Regions from separate parts of the Homo sapiens genome. Here region 1 is linked to region 2. A link means that fine-mapping ties the variant in region 2 to the expression of a gene that starts in the linked region. Tissue or cell type: whole blood. Region 2 holds a variant in brackets; the other region holds the start of a gene. All regions are shown on one strand. Distances are between the middles of the regions.

The links. PIP is the estimated chance that this variant, and not a neighbour inherited with it, causes the effect.
Region 1: it holds the start of CD163, and the variant in region 2 is fine-mapped to the expression of CD163 in whole blood (TOPMed, PIP 0.94).

What each region holds. Positions count from the first base shown.
Region 1 is chr12:7,499,019-7,507,126 of GRCh38, reverse strand. It overlaps CD163 (CD163 molecule), which reads left to right and starts at 3,350. Exons shown (of 17, transcript NM_203416.4): 1 at 3,350-3,482; 2 at 4,563-4,649; 3 at 5,665-5,988; 4 at 7,939-8,108. The coding sequence starts at 3,437.
Region 2 is chr12:7,538,486-7,546,593 of GRCh38, reverse strand. No RefSeq gene overlaps it. Among named protein-coding and RNA genes, the nearest start is that of CD163, 39 kb to the right of the region's middle. The variant A/G (reference allele first, on the strand shown) is at 3,538.

The sequences.
Region 1 (8,108 bases), 39 kb after region 2:
AAATAATAAGAGCTATCTATGACAAACCCACAGCCAATATCGTACTGAATGGGCAAAAACTGGAAGCATTCCCTTTGAAAACTGGCACAAGACTGGGATGCCCTCTCTCACCACTCCTATTCAAGATAGTGTTAGAAGTTCTGGCCATGGCAATTAGGCAGGAGAAGAAAATAAAGGGTATTCAATTAGGAAAAGAGGAAGTCAAATTGTCCCTGTTTGCAGATGACATGATTGTATATTTAGAAAACCCCATCGTCTCAGCCCAAAATCTCCTTAAGCTGATAAGCAACTTCAGCAAAGTCTCAGGATACAAAATCAATGTACAAAAATCACAAGCATTCTTATACACCAATAACAGACAAACAGAGAGCCAAATCATGAGTGAACTCCCATTCACAATTGCTTCAAAGAGAATAAAATACCTAGGAATCCAACTTACAAGGGATGTGAAGGACCTCTTCAAGGAGAACTACAAACCACTGCTCAATGAAATAAAAGAGGATACCAACAAATGGAAGAACCTTCCATGCTCATGGGTAGGAAGAATCAATATCATGAAAATGGCCATACTGCCCAAGGTAATTTATAGATTCAATGCCATCCCCATCAAGCTACCAATGACTTTCTTCACAGAATTGGAAAAAACTACTTTAAAGTTCATATGGAACCAAAAAAGAGCCCACATCCCCAAGTCAATCCTAAGCCAAAAGAACAAAGCTGGAGGCATCACGCTACCTGACTTCAAACTATACTACAAGGCTACAGTAACCAAAACAGCATGGTACTGGTACCAAAACAGAGATATAGATCAATGGAACAGAACAGAGCCCTCAGAAATAATGCCGCATATCTACAACCATCTGATCTTTGACAAACCTGACAAAAACAAGCAATGGGGAAAGGATTCCCTATTTAATAAATGTTGCTGGGAAAACTGGCTAGCCATATGTAGAAAGCTGAAACTGGATCCCTTCCTTACACCTTATACAAAAATTAATTCAAGATGGATTAAAGACTTACATGTTAGACCTAAAACCATAAAAACCCTAGAAGAAAACCTAGGCAATACCATTCAGGACATAGGCATGGGCAAGGACTTCATATCTAAAACACCAAAAGCAATGGCAACAAAAGCCAAAATAGACAAATGGGATCTAATTAAACTAAAGAGCTTCTGCACAGCAAAAGAAACTACCATCAGAGTGAACAGGAAATCTACAAAATGGGAGAAAATTTTCGCAACCTACTCATCTGACAAAGGGTTAATATCCAGAATCTACAATGACCTCAAACAAATTTACAAGAAAAAAACAAACAACCCCATCAAAAATTGGCGAAGGATATGAACAGATACTTCTCAAAAGAAGACATTTATGCAGCCAAAAAACACATGAAAAAATGCTCATCATCACTGGCCATCAGAGAAATGCAAACCAAAACCACAACGAGATACCATCTCACACCAGTTAGAATGGTGATCATTAAAAAGTCAGGAAACAATAGGTGCTGGAGAGGATGTGGAGAAATAGGCATGCTTTTACACTGTTGGTGGGACTGTAAACTAATTCAACCATTGTGGAAGTCAGTGTGGCAATTCCTCAGGGATCTAGAACTAGAAATACCATTTGACCCAGCCATCCCATTTCTGGGTATATACCCAAAGGATTATAAATCATGCTGCTATAAAGACACATGCACACGTACGTTTATAGCGGCACTACTCGCAATAGCAAAGACTTGGAACCAACCCAAATGTCCATCAATGATAGACTGGATTAAGAAAATGTGGCACATATATACCATGGAATACTATGCAGCCATAAAAAATGATGAGTTCATGTCCTTTGTAGGGACATGGATGAAACTGGAAACCATCATTCTCAGCAAACCATCGCAAGGACAAAAAACCAAACACCACATGTTCTCACTCATAGGTGGGAATTGAACAATGAGAACACATGGACACAGGAAGGGGAACATCCCACTCCAGGGACGGTTGTGGGGTCAGGGGAGGGGGGAGGGATAACATTAGGAGATATACCTAATGCTAAATGACGAGTTAATGGGTGCAGCACACCAGCATTGCACATGTATACATACGTAACAAACCTGCATGTTGTGCACATGTATCCTAAAACTTAAAGTATAATAATAATTTAAAAAAAGGAAAAAAATATATATATAATTGACAACCCTCATAAGTACAGGCTATCATGAGTGCATATTTTCTGGGGTCTTTCAGCGTTAGAGTTATTTCTCCTAGTGAAGGGAGGTTTAACTGAGAAATAAAGTATACGTGAGTGAGAGTTATCTTAGAGAAAGGTACGGGTAGGGAGGCAGTAAACACAGAAGGAACAATATGTATGACATACCATGAGGCAGGGAGAGATTTGGCATGCCTGAGAAGTGGAAGAAAACTGGGGTGCCTTTGTTGACTGGGTTCTAGTGAATGTCTCTCTGGAAGGCTGGAGTTGCTCTTTAATTCCCCATTTCAGGCCCATCACTAACACCTGACAATATGTATGCCATGATGAACTATTAGTAGTTCTTTTGAGCTTATATGTTTTTATATACAAATATTCATTTGTATGTGCTATTTTTTATGCCTTAAACTCCTTTATCATTTGTCCCTTTGGCAATGTTTTTCTCATCTTTTAGGACACAATTTAAGCCTGTCCTCAGAGAAAATAGTTTTCTGACTGTTCATTCCTTTCTCTCAATAGATAGGACTACTTTGTCCATTATTTTTAACACTGCACTTTAGCTTTATGTTCATTGTTGTTATCATATGTGTTTCTCTTACTTGAATCTGAGTTATATAGAGCTAAAATCATGTGTTGCTAATTTTTGTTTCACCATTTGTAATATCAGTAATAGTCATGGCTAATTCTCTTGGTGTACTTCATCCCATTAGAAAAGAAATGACAAATGCTGTGTCTCAACAACTTACACAAAATTACTCATTAGACACATTTGATTATGGAAATAAAATTAAAAGTGCATATGATAAAATGTTATTTAATTATGTTTTGCCTGTTTTGCTTTAGTTTTTTACATAATTTTTCTACATGACAATTAGTAATTTTTTGTGTCTTATATATTTGTCCAAAATGAAGTTCAAAAATGTAAAATATTTAATTCAGCAACAGCAGCATATGAGTTAGTATTTCCTCTAATTTTTCGAAATCTGTGGGAAGTGTTTCCCAATTTCCTTTGGTTGTTTCATGTGCTATATTGAAGAAAACATGAGTATGAAATGGAACCTCAGCTCTTTCAATGACTTCCCTTTTTGAGTTGACTCCGCCTCCATATGTAGCCTTTTCATTTTCATGAAAGTGAAGTGATTTTTAGAATTCTTAGTTGTTTTCTTTAGAAGAACATTTCTAGGGAATAATACAAGAAGATTTAGGAATCATTGAAGTTATAAATCTTTGGAATGAGCAAACTCAGAATGGTGCTACTTGAAGACTCTGGATCTGCTGGTAAAAGCTTCTCATTTATTCTACATTTCCCCTTTAATGGGGTATGTAATTATTATGACAGTCAATGGATGTGATTTAAAAGTGATTGGCATCAGGAGAGTAAGGAGTGGAAAAAGGACATAGGCTTATATGGCAGCACCTTTGATCTGCCATAGATTCAAAATTGAAGATGTGATATGGGAATCAGAGTCGGCATTAATTTTGTAAAACTGCTGAGGTGAAATTAAGTCAGGAACTAAAGTTAACTGAAATGTACTGAGTATGAAAAAATAGTTGTTAGAAAAGATAGAATATGCAGAAAGGAATATTGATAGAGAGTTAATTACATAAAGAAAGTTATCTACTCTGATAAGTGAGTTATCTATTTTAAGACTTATTTGGACATGTTAAAATCATTTAGCATTTTTAGTTTTAAATTAGTGTTGGGTTAGAGTAACGAGAAGATATGAGAGTAATAACAGCATTAAAGAGTGTATTATGTGATAAGGATACAGGTAGAGATGACAAGATTTAATATTTGAGTTTTTCAGATATGGATATCATCACTTAGGTATTGTTCTGCTAGCTACTATTTGGCAAGCATCAAGCCAGGTACTGGTGAAATTATGGTGAACATGATAGATATAATTCGTTTACTCATGGAACTTATCCTCTATCAGTGCGGCTAGGTAGTCTTAAAGATGGGGGCATCCATAATTGAATATCAAGGTGGTTAGGGAATAGAGAAATCTCAGGATACCTTCCCTGTGCCTGCTGGGAGAATTGTCCACTACTAAGTTTCATTGATGTTGTTTCCATTTTCCAGGTTTTAAGGGTTGACCTTGCAATTCTCGTTTCCACCACCAACCTTCTGCTAATCCGTCACCTCTAGGTTGCCTATAAACATGAACATTTTCAAAACCATTTCACTGAAACTATATGAGCCTGGGTATGAATGTTTTCTGCCTGCCTTGCAATTTAGAATGAAGAGTTTTCTGTCTTGGTTTGAGCTTCTTTGTTAATTAACCTCTGAAACCATCTATCTTCTCCAAAGTCTCTTTTTGGGAAGATGCTACTTTTGCCCTCTTTTCTTTTTCACAGACTTCAGAAGACATTTTGTCAACTTGAGTCCCTTCACCATTACTGTGGTCTTACTTCTCAGTGCCTGTTTTGTCACCAGTTCTCTTGGTGAGTACTTTGTCAAATTTACTTACAGCCTTAGCCCACTCTGACAAGAACAGTTAAAAGGCAAACAATTTTTCTGAAGGCCAAGTAGCATCTAAAAACTAGGTGACATGCTCCATGTATTCAAAGGATCAGATATTATTAAAAGCACACAATAAAAATCTAACCAAAATATTAGCATGGTTCCTCACCAAATGAAATAAACTCACAGGAGAGAAATGAATTTTACTTAAAGATTAGAAATAATGTTGAACTGAAAAATAGGAAAGAATACAAAGGAGGAGAAACTTCAGAATCATTAAAACAAAAGTGAATTTGGGAAACACATTAGTAAATTCAAATGCCAAAATTTATCTAAAAATGTATTGAGAGATGCCAGGTTGGTGGGACCAGATTCCTACATAAAGCTAAAATAATGCCAAGGAGGCAACTGAGATCATCTATCATCTGGGGATGGGAAGAGAGTACAAAGAGGTTTATTTTATGGTAGAAAATAGCAGAAAATATCTCCATCTTAATTTTAGATAAGTTTCAGTCTAGCGTTTTTAAGATTTATGCTATTTTACATATACGTATGAAATAAGAGTTAAATTTCTTACAACTAGTCTTTTCATCTTCATAAATTCTCTATCAGCCTTCTTTCTATCGACCTTAGGATTTTGGAGAAATGTAAAAAGTTCATCCCCATAACGTTTTGTAGCATCTTATTTAACTCGAAAATGCTTCACAGGAATTATATAAATTGCCACTATTAAGGCTATCCAGCCATAAAATAAAGCTATTAAACACTATTGTGTTACTTACCTTTACTGGTCATATAGCACTGCTTAATTTGAAACCAGTGATACTGATACTTATATTTGAATGACTGTGAAATAACATTCTTCTGTTTTACCATGGATAGGACTAGGATGGTTCTCAAATCTGAGTTTGAAGGATAAATAAGTAATGTAAAAAAATAATTTTCTACTTGCTCTTTGCGACCTTGGCCAATTACTGTCTTAATCCATTGTTGCAGGAGGAACAGACAAGGAGCTGAGGCTAGTGGATGGTGAAAACAAGTGTAGCGGGAGAGTGGAAGTGAAAGTCCAGGAGGAGTGGGGAACGGTGTGTAATAATGGCTGGAGCATGGAAGCGGTCTCTGTGATTTGTAACCAGCTGGGATGTCCAACTGCTATCAAAGCCCCTGGATGGGCTAATTCCAGTGCAGGTTCTGGACGCATTTGGATGGATCATGTTTCTTGTCGTGGGAATGAGTCAGCTCTTTGGGATTGCAAACATGATGGATGGGGAAAGCATAGTAACTGTACTCACCAACAAGATGCTGGAGTGACCTGCTCAGGTAAGACTTGCATTAGTCAAAGCCTCAACACAAAATCCTTGGTGGGAAAAAAATATGTAGATGGGTTAAAACCTAGAATAAGCCACTTTCCTGTAAGCAATCTAGTTCATGTATAAAAGTACTCCATCCATTGCTAGAAAACCACAAAACACGAGGTCATTTTTTTTTAATAAAAAAAATTCTGAACACTGTGATTAATGAGGAGGTGACTGGCTTCAATTTTATACATGATCTTAGCCAAAAAGCCAAGAAGTGGTGGTTTAAATTTGATATTCAGTAAGCTTACTGTAACCTACTATTCCTATATCATAAAAATATCATGACATCTAAGTTATTTCCTTGTTCTTTCCCAGTGACTTGTTTTGATATGTTGACCCACAAATTATTACCATTTTGTCCATTAACTGATAATCAACTTAGTAAATCAAAAAACAACTATTTCTAGCATTAATACATCATTTCTTGTTGTAGGAAGGATTCTTTGAAAGTATAATTGCTTGACCAGTGTGCAATGCTAGTCATTTCATTTACATTGTGCTTTTAATTTACAAAACATCTCCATATGTTTTATTGCAATTGACCCCACAATAACTGAGAAAGTCATGTGTCAGGCCTTTCTGCTGACAAATCCCAAGGGCACATTTCTGATCCAACTCAGATTCCTGGGATCCCCATTTCTTTTTGTTTGTTTCATTCCTTTTTTTTTTTTTTTTTTTTGGGACGAATTGTCGCTCTTGTCCCCCAGGCTGGAGTGCGATGGCGCTATCTCGGCTCACTGCAACCTCCACCTCCCGGGTTCAAGCAATTCTCCTGCCTCAGTCTCCCGAGTAGCTGGGATTATAGGCACCTGCCACCACACCTGGCTGATTTTTGTATTTTTAGTAGAGACAGGGTTTCACCATATTGGCCAGGCTGGTCTCGAACTCCTGAGCTCAGGTGATCCACCTGCCTCGGCCTCCCAAAATCCTGGGATTACAGGTGTGAGCCACCGTGACTGGCCTGTTTCATTAATTTTTATACAATCCTCTCACCTCCCAGCCTCTCTCTCTCCCATAGGACTGACTATAGAAAGGACTTATCTCTGTCCAGGCATCATGATGTGATAAGAGAAACACACAGTAGCATCTAGAAAAATGCTGAAATAAATTTTCACATAGCTAATATCCTGTGATTTTGTGCAAGTTGTCAAATCTCTCTAAACTTCAGTTTCTGAGGATTCAATGATATAATACATGTAAAACTACTGGTACACTGTTTGGTATGTAACAGGTGCTGAAGATCCTCATGGCTCAGTTCTCTTGGTGACTCAGTTCTCTTTCTTCTTTCTCCGCTTCCTCTTCCTCTTCCTTCTCCTCCTTCTCCTCCTTCTTTCCTCTTATTTTTAACCACTATGGGAGGTGTGAAATGGGGAATAACAAAAGTAACATCTACTGCAAAGTTTAAAATTATCATAAATTTTAGCAGGCTCTTATCATAATTATTGCTGTGTATAGAACTGGCTGTTTAGCTAAAACAGTGTAGTACTTTTAGCTCTTTTTTTCTGTTGTTTTATAACTACCAGTGGAGTTAATCAATTTGCTTTTTGAAATTTATACACTTAAAGCTTTAACCTGAGTCAAATTTAAATAACTTGAGTCGAATTTATCTATTTCTGTACAAAAAAGAGTATTTACATCTGTCCTAGTAATAGATGGAAACAAAACAAAACAGAAAGTTTAAAAACTTTAACCTGTAAACATTTTCCTTTGTAAGTAGATATAGATAAAAATCCTAATTGCTTCCTAGATTTTAACATATTAAAATTCTCTACCGTGTGGAGCTGGGCAATGTCCAAAATCAGGCACCATTTTAAGGACAACATAAAATCCCAAGTGTCCAGAGGAAACTTCTTTTCTAAAATCACTTCTAAATGAATGTAACTTCTGAACTCTGGTCTTTTCTCTGCTCCAGATGGATCCAATTTGGAAATGAGGCTGACGCGTGGAGGGAATATGTGTTCTGGAAGAATAGAGATCAAATTCCAAGGACGGTGGGGAACAGTGTGTGATGATAACTTCAACATAGATCATGCATCTGTCATTTGTAGACAACTTGAATGTGGAAGTGCTGTCAGTTTCTCT
Region 2 (8,108 bases):
TTCTGTCTTTGTTCTCATTGGTTTCAAAGAACATCTTTATTTCTGCCTTCATTTTGTTATTTACCCAGTATTCATTCAGGAGCAGGTTGTTCAGTTTCCATGTAGTTGTGCAGTTTTGAGTGAGTTTCTTAATCCTGAGTTCTAATCTGATTGCAGTGTGGTCTGAGAGACAGTTTGTTGTGATTTCTTTTCTTTTACATTTGCTGAGGAGTGTTTTACTACTAATTATTCGGTCAATTTTAGAATAAGTGTGATGTGGTGCTGAGAAGAATGTATATTCTATTGATTTGTGGTGGAGAGTTCTGTAGATGTCTACTAGGTCTGCTTGGTGCAGAGCTGAGTTCAAGTCCTGGATATCTTTTTTAACCTTCTGTGTCGTTGATCTGTCTACTATTCATAGTGGGGTGGTAAAGTCTCCCATTATTATTGTGTGGGAGTCTAAGTCTCTTTGTATGTCTCTAAGGACTTGCTGTATGAATCTGGGTGCTCCTGTATTGGGTGCATATATATTTAGGATAGTTAGCTCTTCTTGTTGAATTGATCCCTTTACCATTATCTAGTGGCCTTCTTTGTCTTGTTTGATCTTTGTTGGTTTAAAGTCTGTTTTATCAGAGACGAGGATTGCAACCCTTTTTTTTTTTTTTTTTTTTCATTTTCTTGGTGGATCTTCCTCCATCCCTTTATTTTGAGTCTATGTGCATCTCTGCATGTGAGATGGGTCTCCTGAATACAGCACACAGATGGGTTTTGACTCTTTATCTAATTTGGCAGTCTGTGTTTTTTAATTGGGGCATTTAGTCCATTTACATTTAAGGTTAATATTGTTATATTTGGATTTGATCCTATCGTTATGATGTTAGCTGGTTATTTTACCTGTTAATTGATGCAGTTTCTTCATAGCATCAGTGGTCTTTACCATTTGGCATGTTTTTGCAGTGGCTGGTACTGGTTGTTCCTTTCCATGTTTAGTCCTTCCTTCAGGAGCTCTTGTAAAGCAGGCCTGGTGGTGACAAAATCTCACAGCATTTGTTTGTCTGTAAAGGATTTTATTTCACCTTCACTTATGAAGCTTAGTTTGGCTGGATATGATATTCTGGGTTGAAAATTCTTTTCTTTAAGAATGTTGAATATTGGCCCCCACTCTCTTCTGGCTTGTAGGGTTTGTTTAGAGAGATCCACTGTTAGTCTGATGGGCTTCCCTTTGTGGGTAACCCGACCTTTCTCCCTGGCTGCCCTTACCATTTTTTCCTTTGTTTCAACCTTGGTGAATCTAATAATTATGTGTCTTGGGTTGCTCTTCTCAAGGAATGTCTCTGTGGTGTTCTCTTTATTTCCTGAATTTGAATTTTGGCCTGTCTTTCTAGGTTGGGGAAGTTCTCTTGGATAATATCCTGAAGAGTTGGATATTAACTAACTTGGTTCCATTCTCACCATCACTTTCAGGTGCACCAGTCAAACGTGTATTTGGTCTTTTCACGTAGTCTCATATTTCTTGGAGGCTTTTTTCATTTGTTTTTACTCTTTTTTCTCTAATCTTGTCTTCTCACTTTATTTTATTAATTTGATCTTCAATCACTGATATCCTTTCTTTCACTTCATCAAATCAGCTACTGAAGCTTGTGCATGCATCATGAAGTTCTCATGCCATGGTTTTCAGCTCCATCAGGTCATTTAAGGTTTTCTCTACACTGTTTATTCTAGTTAGCCATTTGTCTAACCTTTTTTCAAGGTTTTTGGCTTTTTTGCGATGGGTTAGAATATGCTCCTTTAGCTCAGAGAAGTTCGTTATTACCGGCCTTCTGAAGCCTACTTTTGTCAACTCATCAAACTCATTCTCTGTCCAGTTTTGTTCCTTTGCTGGCGAGGAGCTGCGATACTTTGGAGGAGAAGAGGCACTCTATTTTTTTGAAGTTTCAGCTCCTCTTCCCTGGTTTCTCCTCATCTTTGTGGTTTTATCTACTTTTGGTCTTTGATGTTGATGACCTACAGATGGGTCTTTGGTGTAGATGTCTTTTTTGTTGATGTTGATGCTATTCCTTTCTGTTTGTTAGTTTTCCTTCTAACAGTCAGGTCCCTCAGCTTCAGGACTGTTAGAGTTTGCTGGAGGTCCACTCCAGACCCTGTTTCCTGAGTATCACCAGCAGAGGCTGCAGAACAGCAAATATTGCTGCCCGATCCTTCCTCTGGAAGCTTCATCCCAGAGGGGTACCTGTCTGTTTGGGGTGTCTGTTGGCCCCTATTGGGAGGTGTTTGCTAGTCAGGCTACACGGGGGTCAGGGACCCACTTAAGGAGGCAGTCTGTCCATTCTTGGAGCTAGAACGCTGTGCTGAGAGAACCACTGGTCTCTTTAGAGCTTTCAGATGGGGACGGTTAAGTCTGCAGAAGCTGCTGCCTTTTGTTCTACTATGCCCTGCCTGCAGAGGTGGAATCTATAGAGGCAGTAGGCCTTGTTGAGCTGAGGTGGGTTCCACCCAGTTCGTGCTTCCTGGCCTCTTTGTTTACACTGTGACCTACTCAAGCCTCAGCAATGGCAGGCACCCTTCCCCACATCAAGCTGCTGCATCGCAGGTGAATCTCAGGCTGCTGTGCTAGCAGTGAGCAAGGGTCCATGGGTGTGGCACCCATTGAGCAAAGCACAGGAGGGTATCTCCTGGTCTGCTGGTTGCTAAGACTGTGGGAAAAGTGCAGTATTTCATCAGGAGTGTACTGTTTCTCCAGGTACAGTCTGTCACTGCTTCCCTTGGCTAGGAAAGGAAATCCCTCGACCCCTTGCAGTTCCCAGGTGAAGCGATGTCCTGCCCTGCTTCAGCTCGCCCTCCATGAGCTGCACCCACTGTCCAACCAGTCCCAGTGAGATGAACCAGGTACCTCAGTTGGAAATGCAGAAATCACCCGTCTTTTGCGTCGATCTCACTGGGAGCTGCAGACCGGAGCTGTTCCTATTCGGCCATCTTGGAAGTGCTCTCCAAGATGTTTTCTTGAGATGCAAATAATTTGAATGCCCTTTCAAACACTGTGACAGAACAGCAAGGCCCACACTTTTCCTCCTTCCACTTTATCAGTTCAACTTAGCAGGGCCAGAATTCAAACTCATGTTCATAGAGATTTCATTTAATTTTCAGCAAAGAGCATTGTGTAAATCAATACATTCTTTCTTGTTTTTCACTGCCCCTTTGGAACTATATACAGGTGTGCTATGATTATGGAGGACTGAAATCAGCACACGATGTAGGAACTCTTGTTGGTCTGCACTGCTGTTTTTCTCTGTTTGCTTTTCTGATGGTAGATTATGTTAATGTTATCTTTCTTGTCTTTAATTTCTGAGTTGACACAAAGTAAACAATCTGACATTCCTTTAAGAAACAAACTATTCCTCTTTCTGAAAACACTGACATTTGACTTTCATTTTAGGCAAATTTTTACTGTCTCTGCTTTTGGGAACTGCAGTAAATGGTTAAGAGTACCAGAAGAACTTGTCATCTATAGCATTCCTGTTAGAACATTTCACAAGGACTAGAAATCTTTTTAGACAGTAG[A/G]GTGGAACAGAAAGAATGGGAAGTAGCTCTTTCTTGGCAGGGTTGCAGTATACTTTTTTTCTGGAATTAGTAAGAATGATGAACTGTTACACAATGATGGGGAAGTTGTGAGTGGGTGACCCAGAGAGACATGATAGCTAAATTTCACTGGGATCCTGTTTCTCATTCTGTTTTCCTCCTTTGGCTGTGATCACTGCTGGATAAAACAACATAGCTGAGCAGATAGAAAACACTTTAAATCACTCTCCCTATCCTCACCTGGCCTTCAGTTCTGTCATTAAGCTCACTCACAATCTGTACTACATCATTTATTCATATTTCACAAAAAATAAAAATAACTTCACTGAAACTCTTCTCACCAAGTTCATTATTGACCTGCACTCTACAAATCCAGAAGAATCTTTACAATCTTTATTTTGTCTGATGTGTTAATATGATTTGACACATGGACAATTGTCTTGTAGCAGGATGAGCCATGGACAAAACCCCTCAGACACCGAGATAGTGAAGGGAGTGGCTTTAATCAGCTGGGAGCATCGGCAGGCTAGCGTCTTAACATCTGAGCTCATCAGGTGCTCAATTTTTGTCCCTTTTAAGAGCTCACAACTCTAAGAGGGTCCACGTGAGAGGGTCTTGATCGATTGAGCAAGCCAGGGAGTACGTGACAGGGGCTGCAAGCACCGGTGGTTAGAGTGAAACAGAACAGAGCGGGAGGTTTCACAGTGTCCTTCCGTACAATGTCTGGAATCTATAGACAACAACAGTTGCTAGGTCAGGGGTCGAATTTTAACTACCAGGCTTAGGTCAGGCAGGCCCTGGCCTGATTTCAGGTCTGGTTCCTTGGTTTCTGGTCTGGTTCCCAGGCGCCAGGCTACCTGCCTTTAGTTTCACTTCTCTTTCCTTTTCTGAGTTTAAAACAATATAAAAAATATGAGAGGGTCTCTCTCTTCCCTCAGTTTCTGTTTTGAATATTTCTTTTTTTTGGCTATGGGGTCTCACCTCCTGCTGGATTTTCTTACATAGATCTGGCGACTCCTTCTATGTTTCTTTTGAAAAGAAAGATCCTGGTAGGTGATCTCTTTGACATCTTTGATTTTCAACTGCCATTGAAGACCAGCTGTTGTGATTTTCCTCGAGTTTTTGTTCCAGAAGAGGTTGCAGTGGGTGTTTACAGTGTGTCTTTCATGGGACACTTTTTTTTATCCTGGAAGACAACTCAATGCCTAAGTGTCTGCCCCTTCACCAGGTGTTCCTCTCACAGGAAACTTTATTAAGCTAGCAGATGTTCTTGCACTCTTCTCTGACCTGTGTCCAGTTTATTCCTACCAAGATAGCCACTCTCTAAGAGAGCCCTGCCTGGGAGGAGTGTTCAGTTCAGGTGTATTGGTCAGGTGAGAAACAGAGGAGCCAACATAGCAAAACACATGAAATAACAGAAGCACTGTATTAATTACAGATCCCAGAGAGAAGGGAGCAGCAAGAAAAATTCTGAGGTCAAGTGTTCACTGTTTGAACTCTCTCAAAAAACAAAACAAAACAAACAAACAAACCCTACAACTATGGAGCAAACATGTAAAGCTTTCTAAGTTTTGTGTCTGTCTCTACTTTTTTTCCTGCCTACTTTGAATCTGATAACTCTTCTATTGGTGTTGAGATAAAATGGATGGCTTATGGCGCTCCAGCCAAGACTTTTTAAAAAGTCTTAAAAAGCTTTCAACTGAATGGCTTTACAAATTACAACAGCTTCATTATAACCAACAACCTAAACACCTTTTGAAAATGTACATATTTAGTTAGGCTTGTCTGACCAATGTATGCTCAGGGTGATGGAACAATTAGTTGAATAATTAATATTCTGAAAAAAAAAGAACTAGACAAACGTTTATAAAAAGTTAAGCTCTCAGATTAAACAGATCAAAATCTTGAGCTCAGAGAAATAACGTAAACTGTATCTGCCACAAAAATTGCTCTGTCTGCCACACAGGGACCAACAGACAAAGCAAAACAAACAAACAAACATAACTTCTAAAGCGCTTCCCCATCTGCATTGACTAGTCAACCAAACAAAAAGTACCTCCTTGCATATGATTTGCAGGAATGCATCACTGCCTTTTGCTCTTTTTCTTTCTCCCCTTGAAAAGGTGTTTGTTTGTTTGTTTGTTTGTTTTGATTAGCTGGGGTGATAAGTCTCCCCTTCAACTTTTTTGTCAGCTCCCATAACTATTTTTCTCCAGTTCTAACTCTGCTATTATGGCCTGATGCTCATTTACCTAAGACAATCTGAGTAAAATTTCTTAAGAGATTTCTGGCTGACCATATCAGATTTTACCATGTAAACACAATATATGACATAATACATGTACACATGGATAAACACACCTAAACACACATACATTCACACAAATGTATTATAGCTTTTGTTTTAGAATTTTAGCCATGAGACAGTAAAACAAACTTACTGGTTTACAAAAGGCAGCTGGATTAAAAAACTGGTTATAGTGGCTCATGCATGTAGTCTCAGCTTCTGAGGAAGCTGAGATTAGCGTCTCCCTTGAGCCCAGTAGTTTGAGTCCAGTCTGGCCAACATAGTGAGATCCTTTCTCAAAAAAAAAAAAAAAAAAGCAGTTGGATCCAAATTATATTTTTGACAAAATGAGGCCTGTTCACATGGCTAAACATCACTTGTCCTAATTAAGTTAATGGGCCAAAATTGGGGGTAAAGCAGATTCCATAGCAGTTTGATTTTTAGCAGCCTACTTTTATGCTTTTTTTCAATTTTTAATAACTGTAGGGTTACATTTTTAATGTTTACATTTTAGCCGAACTGGCTGAATTGTGTAAGAAAGCCAATATCTCAAAGTTTTTCCCCAATTTGATTCCGTACTAGTGGTTTTTTTAATGTGTCTAAATTATTCCATGTATCCAGGATACTTCCCATACTGTCCTGAAAAACCATGTATTCCCCTGCTCAAGATAATAGTTTTCTTGTTTACATTCCTCTATAATATGTGGTACACTCATAGCTTTGGACATCATTATTCCCACATCTGATTAAAATCAAGTGCCTTCTTCATCAGACTCAACCTCAAGGATATCTAAATGGGCTTCCCATAAGGAGAAGCAATCACAGTGAAGGAGTTTTTGTTTTAGTTTAAAAATTTTTTTTTAATTTTTTTAACTTTTTTGGTACCCAGCCTAATAAACAAAAAAGAATTTACATTTTATCAAGATAATTTTCCAATGTCATCTTTATCAGTTTTTTAAATTAGGAAAGCAGAACTTTGAGAGGTTAAGGTTTTTAAAATCCATGTAACTTTCTTTAATGCTTTTGAAGTCTTTATTTTCACTATGGTTTAATAAATGACTGCTATTTCAAAGTGACCTATTATTCTGTTTTGATCAAGTGTTTTGAACCTTTTGATATCTTTGGCAGGCTTTCCAAGGACCAGAATTCTAAATGAAGTCTTTTTGAACTAAAATTAACTTTGAAATTTTCAATCTAAGCCCCTAGAGAGACTCAAAGAACACATCTCTCATCCTGCAGATTTTAAATGATTAGGCTTATTTGGTAAATGATATAAAAAGCATAGTCAAATGACAAGTGATACTAGATCTTCTTTTAGTTGTACTTATGGATAAATTATTGAGATGAATATTTCAAAAATTATATAAATTTATAAAAATCTAATATGTTAGTCATAATTTTGGTTGTTAGGTTAAATCTTCTTTTAAGTTATATTTTTATGGATGTTATTGGTCTAAGTATTCTAAAGATTAAGTGAAATCTATGAAAGTCTGGTGGACCTGTTATGAGCTCACAATCATGATTCTGGTTGTTATCTTAAAATGTTGTAAAGAAATGACAAGAAAACTAAATTTTCTTTTCAGCTGTGAACTTTCATCATATTTTAACCATAACTATTCTAAGTCTTTGTTATCCATAGTTATTATTTTTATTTTTCTCTATAATTATTTATAATTGGCTATAGTCCAAAATTGCTTTTCATAAAAAAGACTCTAACAAGTACTCTTAAACTCATAGTTCTAATAATTTTAAAATTAATAGACTAAATAAAAATTTCCGGAATTCTGATGAAGAAACTGATGGGCTCAGGAAATTGCTAATCAAGGTCAAGCAAACAAAATTTTAATTACATGAGATTTAATAATTGATGAAAATATTACTTTTATAACTTTTATTTAAAACATTATGAGAGGGAGAAAGCAAGGGAAGAGAACAGGAATCTCTGCCTAGTAATTTAGATAATTCTCACAGATCTTGTCCAAGACCATCAGTGTGACACATCTACAAGTTTGCAAGAACCACAGTATTACTGGGCTTGAGGTGCCCCCTAAAGCAAATACAGCTTAGATCACAACACCCAAGCCCTGTGGAATATCTGGAAAGCTTTCTCAAGAAGGATGGGAACAAACAAGCCAAGACAGTGAAGACTACAGTAAATGCCTAACTCTTCCATGCCCACAAACCAAAGAATGTCTATGAGCATCAACACCATCTAGTAAAACAGGACCTCACCAAGTGAACTAAATAAGACACCAGGGACCAATCC